Regions from separate parts of the Homo sapiens genome. Here region 2 is linked to region 1. The links come from fine-mapping of genetic effects on gene expression. A gene starts in region 1. The other region holds a variant in brackets. All regions are shown on one strand. Distances are between the middles of the regions.

The links. PIP is the estimated chance that this variant, and not a neighbour inherited with it, causes the effect.
Region 2: its variant is fine-mapped to the expression of RMDN1 in adrenal gland (GTEx, PIP 0.92).

What each region holds. Positions count from the first base shown.
Region 1 is chr8:86,505,567-86,510,955 of GRCh38, forward strand. RMDN1 (regulator of microtubule dynamics 1) reads right to left here and starts at 3,120. Exons shown (of 10, transcript NM_016033.3): 1 at 2,926-3,120; 2 at 1,429-1,546. The coding sequence starts at 3,054. It also overlaps the pseudogene SLC2A3P4. RefSeq lists an enhancer at 2,865-3,034.
Region 2 is chr8:86,470,144-86,475,532 of GRCh38, forward strand. RMDN1 (regulator of microtubule dynamics 1) reads right to left here. Exons shown (of 10, transcript NM_016033.3): 9 at 4,677-4,810; 10 at 2,206-4,215. The coding sequence ends at 4,165. Among named protein-coding and RNA genes, the nearest start is that of RMDN1, 36 kb to the right of the region's middle. The variant G/A (reference allele first, on the strand shown) is at 2,541.

The DNA of each region.
Region 1 (5,389 bases):
AATTTTTTAAGTTCTGGGATACAGGTGCAGAATGCGCAGGTTTGTTACATAGGTATACATGTCCCATGATGGAAATGTTTATTTTTTTAAGTGTAATTTTGCCAAATAATAAAAACAGAAGGAAATTGAGATTGGAGGGAGGTGTTTAAAGAGAGGTTATACAGTAGAAGATTTCATGCTGGGGAGGTTAGCGTGCAATATGAAGAATTTAGGGAGAAATGTAGTTCATTATTGGAGGGTATATTATGTGGTGCCTGAAGTCTGCACATTACCTCTTGACAATTTCTGTCCTTCAGATGGAAACTCTTAATTTCCCATAAAAGTCATATGCCTACATAATAAAGTTATTGATTTCCTTTGGAACTTTTTTCTTTTAATAGTTTACATGTAGTAGTACTTGAAATCTAGGATTATTAACTAATATGGGCATTGTAGTTAATGGTGGTTGATGGGTTCTAATTTTGAATGGAGTCAAGGGAAGGGAAAGTTATTTCTAGAAAGCTTGTTCCCCCTCACTGGACCAAACAACTCCTCCTTGTAGGAGACTCATTACTTTTGAAGTAATCCCACCACCTATCTGGTGGGAGAGCCATCCAAATGAGAAACTTAAAATAATCAGTTCTTGGTAGAGATTCATTATTTCTCCATTTTGTGCTTTAGGAGATTTTAGGTGTTGATTTTGTTTTATTTTAACTCATATCTTTAAAGGAATTCCCCAAAGAATGTTTATAGCTAACTTGGAATTTATAACCTCAGCTCTGGGATTTTTTTCTGAACGATTATTATCTAAAGGTGTGTTGTTGCCTTTAGGGTCATGCCATGCTTGTCTATGTCTGTTACCATGTCACTGTGGTCCTATGCCAAGTGCCCTTAGGGGGTCTCAATCTTTCCAACAGACCATGTTCGAGATAGTATGAGTCAATGTACAGTGTAGCCCACACTTGAGAGGATGAATATGTGTGCACTGTCCCTTTGCTCTGGATGGAAATAGGTTATTGTTGACTTATTTTTTCTGTGTTCCTACAGCCCCTTTTTCATATGTTGCTCAATTTCCCTTCCCCTTCTTGGTGCTTACACATCTCAGACCCTTTAGCCAAACCCTTGCTGATAACGGTATCTTGGTTCTCAGTTCTCACTGTTTCCTCTGGTCACGGAGACTTCAAATAAAAATGCACATAGCTATGGAGTGGGGTTTAGCTGGAAAAGGTGACCTTCTTCCAACTTCACGTCAACTTCTGGCTCCTCAAACAGTAGGTTGGCAGTTAGGCAGGGAAGTTGTTTTCCCATTTCTCACTGAGCAGATTGTGAATATTTCCATATGGATTTTCTATTATTAACATTACCCTGATTCTTTGTTTTAAAATAAAAATTCTGAATGTACGCACACAAAAAAACTCTAAATGTTCCATATATCTAATTTATGCTTACCTTTGGCTGTGGCATGAACCACAGCAGCCTGAGAGATAACCTGGTAAGTTTCAAAACCCAAATACGACAAAGCTGAGAGTAAAAGGCCTCTTTTGAAAGTTCCTGGGTTTCCCATTACCTATGGAAACAATTATGTTAAGAGTTACAAACTTTGAAAATTTGAAGGTACTGCTACCCCAAGCAAAAATTACATGAATTTTCTCCCACCCCCAAAGCAATCGATCATAATACTGGAAGCTTAAAAATTACTTCATCAAAATCTTTAGTAAAACTATCTCAAAGCGTATCTTATTGAGAAAAAGATATCCCCTGGAGTCGCCGCTCATCTAAAAATCACACTCCTGCTGGAAAGGAAGAGCTACAACTTATTTGCTACAACTTATTTGCAAATGCATGGATATTGCAAATTGTATGAAGTAAAATATGAGACACCAACACATAATAAAAATGAATCTTACAGACAAGATTATCATATATAGTAATTACTACATATAAAAATGTACATGGCTAACTTTTAAATTTTTTTGTAGAGACAGGGTCTCACTGTGTTGCCCAGGCTGGTTTCAAACCCCTGGACTCAAGCAATCCTTCCGCCTCGGCTTCCCAAAGTGCTGGGATTACAGGCTGAGCCAAGGGGCCAGGCCTAAAATGGGACTTCAAACTCATCATTGTTCCAATTTGAAAACTTACGGCTAACTAGTTTCATACTTAGAACTCCTCCCATCTCTCTGCCTATATTATCTATAACCTCCCCATTTGGTTATAAACTTCCAAGGAAGGGGAATATGCCAAATTTTAACCACCCCTCCCCACCATCAGTCCCATAATAATTCTGAAAGATTTTAACTGAGCAGTTAAAAATTTGAGTTTAAAATAATGAAACCCCTAGTTCATGTGAAATATATCATATGCATTAATGCCATTCCAATTCCCTGACAAGAATAAACAGAGGCCCACGAGCAGTCTAATAGAAATACCAGAACTGAGACTACAACATGCCGACAACCTTCATTGACGTTATGCAGATACAACGGGCAACTGAGAAATAAACATTTTTAAACAAAAACCTAAACAGTATGAAATCTCTGCTTCTGAGTCGTAGAACTTTTTAAATCACACACCACACTTTTCAAAGTCTGAAAGGGGCAGCCTCAAGCGCTGTTGTATCTGTCATCGCCTACAGGGAGAATAATTTCACAGCGGTCAAGGTTCTTTCCCGTCCTGTTTTACATTTCGCACAAGAAGGGCGGGTAGCAGGCAGCTTCTGGGGCGCGTGGGGGCAAACCCCACTCCTTCTCTGACAGCCCCAGTTAAGGATAGTGGAGGTTTGCAAAATGGAAGGGACCTGTCCGGGCGTTCCAGGCACAGTGGCCCCGAGTTCTTTCCTCGGTTCACCACATTCCTTAGGCAGCGCGGGGCCGCCACCACTTAAGTTAAGGGGGAGCCGGAACCCACTGAGTAGGAAGTGAGGAGCGGGAGCCAGGACCACGGGGGTACCTCGAAGCCGCGGAATCGACAGGGGCCGCAATGCCCGCGGCTGCCCGAAGTCCCCGCAGGGAGACGAGACCCCGGGGCGGCTCCACGTCGGAAAGGCAGAAGGCGCCACAGTCGAGCAGCCAGCGCCATGACCTGCAACTTGCGGGCTGACCCTGCACTACTTCAGGCAGCTACGGAGGCGGGCGGGGCTAAAGGAGATTCAATCCTTCCGGAAAGAACCGCGCCCGCCCGCCTCCTGCACAGCACCTCTTCCGCCTCCTGCCCAGCACCTCTTCCGCCCCCATGGTTTCCGGTGCACGGGCTTAGGGGGTGGGAAATACCCCGATTGGGTGGGACTTAATGGACTTTCCGCGCCTGCGTCCAGGACTGAGGCCGTGAGAGCGCTCTCTTCAGGCGCTCTGACTTGTTTCTGCTCCATCTCTCTAGGGGGTCTTTCATGGTTTGGGCACAAGGATTCGTCGCCAGAATAGAACTGAAAGCTCGGAAATAGACCCGAGAATACAAGTATGCCAGAAAAAAAATTGTCATTTTAATTATCTGCTGCCTTCAAAAGTAGATTGAATCTTGGTACTAGTGGGTCTTTTTTGGAAGTAAATAATTGGAAGAATTATGTTGCCCAACATGAAGAAGGGAAAGTCTCAGTCTCTTCGACTGAGCGACTCAAGGGGGTAGATTCAAGAGAGAGTCCAGAGCAAAGAAACAAAAAATGCAAAGCGTTTTGGGAAGAGGAACTAGCGGGAGGAGGCCTCTGGAAAGGATACTGATGCCCTTGAATGCTAGGGCATGTGTAGTAAAAAACAGAAACAAAAACAAACCCTGGTCTCCCCTAAAATTCTTCAATAAGATGTTTTACTTACTCGAGCAAAGTATTTTATTTTACTCGAGTAAAATAAAATTTCTTGCTCGAGTGGAATTCTTTTGTGGGAAAATGAAGAAATTTTGGATCCTACTTGAGGCCTGATCAGGGTGGGTGGAAACACAGACTGCAAAGGGAGTACCTACTATATGGGTTTAACGAAAAATCTTATGGGTAATAAGGGAGGCGAGTCATGGTTTTAAAAAATTAGGTTGCATTTCTATGGTACTTTTAATACTGTATAGGGAATTAATACATAGTCGTATTGATCTTCCGAACTACCTTGTGAAGTAAGTGGTATCCCAGGTTTACAAATGAAAAAACTGTAACTCAAAGAGATGTATTAACCTAACCAAGGATATGTTAGAAGACAGGAATCCATGTCTTTCTACTCTGAGTCCAGTGCTCCTTCTACTATATGATTGCTACCTCCACTAGTCCCATTAAATCAGCTGTATTTCTTTAGGATTATGTCTTTAAAGTCTATCTTTAAAAATATATAGATCTCCTTCCCAACTTCTGAAACCTAGCTGTTTTTTCCCAAAGACAGAATCACTTTTATTTTATGCATTTCTACTGGCAGCTACCCCCTCAACATTGCTAAATGTTTATGCCACTGGATACCATGATAACAGTGAAATTAAGTTTCTGATATCTCTGCTAGAGTGAATTTGTAATTAAGTTTTTAGCTTTGAAAAAAAAATTAGATCCTAAGAAAAGTTGCAGGAACTCCCATATATTCTTCAGCTAGATTCAGCCATTGTTACCTTTTTCTCACATTTGCTTTATCTTTCTTTACATATCTTACCTATAATACACATATTATATTCCTAGTATTTTCTGTTGTAAGGCCTTTTGAGAGTAGATTACAGATATCATGACTCTTCAGTCTTAGAAACAAGACATTCCCTTACTTAGTCCCAGTTTAATTATCAAATTCAGGAAACTGAAATTGACAGAATACTATTATTTAATATACAAATTTTGTTTAATTCCCAATACTGTCCTTTATACTAATGATTTTTTTTTCTAAATTCAAGATCAAATCTTGATAATGTCTTGCATTTGTTATGTTTCTACTTTCTTTAAATCTTTAAATCGTCAGCCTTGGTCTTTCACGACATTAGTATTTTTTAAATGTATAGTCCCATCGGTTTAAAGCAGGGTTTCTCAGCCTTGGCACAATTGAACTTTTGGGCTGAAGAACTCCTTCAGCCCGTCAGGCCATCAGATGATTGCAGCCTTGGCCAATATCTGACTGCAACATCAAGAGAGATGATGAGCCAGAAGCACCCAGCTAAGCCACTTCTAAATTCCTAAACCACAGAAGCTATGACAGATAATAAATGATTGTTCCTGTTTTAAGCCACTAAATTTGATGTAATCTGTTACACAGCAACTGATAACTAATATAACAGCCAAGTAAAGCATAGAGAGTTGGAGTGTGGAGTTTCAGAGGAAAGGTGTGGAAGTTTGATAACCTTAAGAATATAGGCTGGGCGTAGTGGCTCACACCTGTAATCCCAATATTTTGGGAGGCCAAATCGGGAGAACAGCTTGAGCCCAGGATGTTTGAGACCAGCCTGGGCAACACAGTGAGACTCTGTC
Region 2 (5,389 bases), 35 kb before region 1:
AGGAAACATCTATAATGGAGAGATATAGCCTATGTATGTAATAACACTTAGAACACAGAGTACTACCAACTTACTTTGATATACATGTACGTGGGGAAATAAGCATCTCAATCCAGCAGTCAGCTCTGGAATCCACACAAGAACAATCAGGTGGGGGCTGCACGGGAAGGAGAATGTAAGGGATTCCTGGGGTTTGTTCTCAGTAATGGGTCTCACCCTTAGTGGGGAAACGTCACGGACCAATGTGACACGTGGGGAATCAGGCTCCTGGGAAGTCAAATGGAAGAGACTTAGTGCACAGAATCAGAATCTTGGGAAGGCACCATGTCTTGCAGAAGAAACCTAACCCTCAGAGAGTAAAGGGGAAAAATGAAGATAAAAGGACCCAGGAGCCACACTCCTGGGCATGTATCCCAGAGAGATAAAATCTATGTAGACATAAAAACCTGCATATAATGCTCATAGCAGCTTTATTTGTAATAGCTAAAAATCAGGAATAACCTAAATGCCCCTCAGCATATGGTTGATATGGTATGCCCATAAAATGAAATACTAGTCAACTGTAAAAAGAAACAAACTATTGATAGAACTTAGGTCTCAAGGGAATTATGTTGAGTGAAAAAAAGTATCACAGGGTCTCACTGTATGATTCCATTTGTATAACATTGTTGAAATAACAAAATTATGGAGAACAGATTAGTGCTGTCAGAGTTAGGGATGGGTGGGGGAGAGGAGGAGGTAGATGGGTGTGACTGTAAAGGGACAGCACTGGGGATCTTTGTGATGACGGAACAGGTCTGTATCTTGATTATGGTGGCAGTTACCAAAAATCTACATGTGATAGAATTGCATACAACTATACACACAAGAGCATTTAAAAGTGGTAAAATTTAAATATAAGGTCTGTGGTCTGTACCAATGTCAGTTTCCAGGTTTTGCTATTGTACTACAGGTTATATGAGATGTTAGCACTGGGATAGGCTGAGAGAAAGGTACACAGGATCTTTTTTTTTTTTTTTTCAATTTGTGAATCTATGATTTTTTGAAAGTAAAAATATTTTTTAAAGTTCTAATAAGGAATCAGGAGGTAAGACCTCCATAAAAAGCTTTATTATTGAATGATACCTGATCTCACAAAAAACAAACAACTAAGCAGAAAATATTCTTGAACTAACCCAGACCCTTTCTTCCCATTTGATGACCTAGTATTGCTGGTAACTCAACATAAAATTACATCCCTAGGGAAAAAAAATAAAGTCACTCTAAAGAGAAATTGAAAATGAGAAAAAGGAGAGTAAACTTTAACACAATATGCTAATATGAATTAAATTATTAGATATTTAAAAAATCTGAAATAGCAACTTAAAAACTCAGAACTGGACAAACAAAATGCAGATGTGAATGACTGGCTAAAATCAGGAAAAAAATTCGGAGAAAAAGACAAACACATATCAGATGTGAAGGCAATTATAAAGTATCTAAGGAAGAAGAGATACAACCAAATGTAAAATAAGGGATATGGAAGATATAAATGAAAAGAGCCAAGAAAATGAAACAAAAAGGCTAAAAGAAAAATCAGTAAGTGATAAATGTGAAAGTCAGGCAAAGATCTAATAGAACTAATTTGAGTCCTGGAAATAAGTTGGAACAGCGGTTCTCAAAGTGTGGTCAATTAGACCAATCTGGAATGCGAGAGAATCTATGACAACCGGACTGGCCTATTCAAAAAGTCAATGTTGCAAGAAGAAAAAGATGGGGAACTGTTGTGGATGGAAAGATTAGCAACAAATCAAATGCAATGTATAATCTTTGGATCCTGATTTTAGAAAGCATGAGACATCTTGGGGACATTTGAGAAAATTTGAATATGGGTAGATATTAGATGATGTTAGAGAACTGTTAACTTCTCCAGTTGTGATAATGGTTTTGTGTTTGTTTAGGAAGATGTCTTTATTCTGAGAAAATGCATGCTGACACATTTGGGGTGAACTATTATGATGCTTGCAATCAGTTTCAAAAGGTTTAGAAATGTATGTGTCTATACACACACAAACACACATGTATAAATACAGGTTGAACATCCCTATTTCCAAAAATCTGAAACCTGAAATTCGTGCTCCATAATTCAAAACTTTCTGAGCACCAAAATGATGCTACAGGTAGAAAATTCCACATCTGACCTCACATAACAGGTCACAGTCAAAATGCAGGTGCACAACACAGTTTATTCGGTCTCCCTAAAGGAAAAAACCCATTTTAAAAAGCCATCCAGCAGAATGCCACATCCCTAGAAAGACCCACTTCCTGGCCCTTCAGCTGCTTCTGTTTCTCTTCACCTACAAAAATAAAATTACAGTATACAATAACCTTTTAAAATACAGCATCATTAAGTGGGAAACTGAAAGCCTGCCATTGTTGTTGCCGTTTAACAGCTGATACAGGTTTCTGGTGATGCTACTGTTGCCTAGCTACCCTGACCACATTATTTTTTCACTGTATCAGTGGTGTGTCATATTTTTTTTTTTGCCATCCTTGTTCCT[G/A]TGCGAGTTATGTCATATTTTTTACTGTTAAGTACTTATGCATGAATAAGTATAAGAAAATAACTGCTTATTGGTAGCATATACATTCAGTCAGGAATGATGGTGACATCAACCAACCACAAATTACCCACATGAGTGGCTGAGATAATGACACCTTTGCTTTCTGATGGTTCAAGGTATGCAAACTTGGTCTCAATGCACAAAATTATTAAAAATAATGTTATATAAAGTTACCTTCAAGCTATGTGCATAAGGTATATATGAAACAAGTGAATTTGTGTTTAAACTTGGGTCCCATCTCCAAGATATCTTATTGTGTGTATGCAGGTATTCCAAAATTTGGAAAAACATCCCAAATCCAAGATGCTTCTACTAGTCCCAAGTATTTCAGATAAGGGATACACAACCTATATAGCAAAATCACTGAATCTAAGAGATGGGTATACAAAGATCACTACTTTCAGTTTTCCTTTTTGTTTGAAAATGTACATGACAAACATATCCATACAGTTCATTGTAACATTACAATTCCCAAATCCTTTGGGAAAAATCCACCTACACACACAGTCTGTCTTTATCTAAGTGGATTCAAGATGCTCCTTTTTACAAAACTTAAAAAGATTTTGCAGTGGTGGCACTCCAGCCTCAAGTGAGTAGCATAGTCCTGCCTATTTAAAAACATCTTAGTATTCCATTTCACTCTTAAGTTTTGTGTTCCTTCCATTCCATTAGGGAATAGAACTTTGCATCTGATGACAAATTCAGTTTACCATGAGACTACACCACATTTAAAGTAAACTGGCCAGGTGCGGTGGCTCACGCCTGTAATCCCAGCAATTTGGGAGGCCAAGGCGGGCAGATCACTTGAGGCCAGGAGTTTGAGACCAGCCTAGCCAACATGGCAAAACCCCATCTCTACCAAAAATACAAAAGTTAGCCGAGTGTGGTGGTACAACCCTGTAATCCCAGCCACTCAGGAGGCTAAGGCAGGAGAATCACTTGAACCCGGGAGGCGGAGGCTGCAGTGGGCCGAGATTGTGCCACTGCACACCAGCCTGGGAAACAAAGTGAGACTCTGTCTCAAAAAAATAAAAAAGGAAACTACTCCATTTTTAGTCATCTCCTTACTTAGTTCTTTACTTACACAGGTTAGCTCCAAGATATATCATTTAACTACTTTATGTCAGGAACCCACAACATCCTAACCACTGTCACCACACCTTCTCTTCAAGATTTCAACTTAGAATCAATCCAATTTGAAAATCCATCCCCCTGTATATCCCCTATAGATCCATTTCCCCTCCTCTACAAATATTTCTTTGCTTGATCTCCCATCCCAATGTGATCAATCCTTAGAAATCTCATACCATTTTGCATTGCTGGTATCCAGGATGCAAAATAATCTCTTTGCCTGAGCCATGGAGATTTATTTCTACCACTCTTATGGCGATTATTTATTTTACCCTATTATTTGTGAAGAAGCCTAGAATATTTTATATTTACACGGTTAAATGGTCACAACATTTAAAAAGCCGTAGAACAGTTATAGTTCATATATTAAGTTTAGAATTAAAAGAAAAGGCAATGTTTATTAGCTATTTCATAAATCTTCTCTGAAAAGTTCTCAATTCTTCTCACTGAAACTTGTAAGCAACTGAGCAGCTTCTGTCTGTATCTAAAATGGAAAAATACATGTTATAAGTAAACAGGAGAGCTAAGAGACTAACTTGTGAAATTTAAGTTTATAAAGTGGGGTTTCTAAGAGTTTCCAAAAACCAGATAGGACATTATAACAATAAAATGTCTTGACAGTGACCAGATGAGACTCTCAGCTCTTCCACTTTAGTACACATCCCATGACTTTTATGTTTTAGAAATGTTAACTCGATCTGCCATGTGTGTCAAACAGGAATAATTCTGCATTGTAGCAGGCAACCCGTAACATCCACCTGGTGATAGTAACTAAATTATTTCCTATATAGAAATATAAATGTCAATCAATTTACACTTGAAATGAACACACTTGTTTTCAACAATATTATGCATTTAGAAAATTATGCTTTTAAAGAAGTTCTTAATTCACCATTTAATAGTGCCTCAAAACCTTTCTGCCTTACTTTATGGGAGATGTTTTACCTGTTTATCCTCCTCTGTGTGTGCTGGATAGTCCTTGGCTTTCATTAGCCAGAAAGCAGCAAGCTTTTTGTTGTGTAGTTTCAAGTATGTCTTTCCTAAAAGAAGTAAGTTTTTGCTGTAGAAGTTTGGATCCACTGCACATAAGAAAGAAAAAATGATCTCAGAGGAAACAGTGTTGCTTTTATTTTTAAAGGTTTGTTTCTGAGGTCTAAATTTCAATAAATTTGTGTGGTCAATAAGTGATTAGACTAATGGGAATTCTCTTTTGTTCAACTGTTTATATCTCAAACAAATATTTGTAAAATAATAATTACCAATGAATAAACATCTACAAATGTGCTAGGCACTGCATTATACACATTTCTCATTTTCACAACTTTGTAAGTAGGTATCTCCATTTTATAGATGAGAAGCTGAAGCTCCCGATAGAATGTATGCTATTTGAGGACAGCAATACTCTTTTTAATCTCTTTAGTTCCCTATGGTACCCCACGTGCCTACAACAGTGTGTGAAACATAACATACATTCAGTGTACATCGGCTGAATAAGTGAATGAAATGATGATGACATATATATATTTGATCAACATTTACTGGATGTCAGCTATACTTAAACATAGAGGATGAAACAAAACCTCTGTTTTTTTCAACTTTATAATGAAGAGAGAAACATGAACACAACTAAATGTAATATAAAAATGAAAGGAATGCTT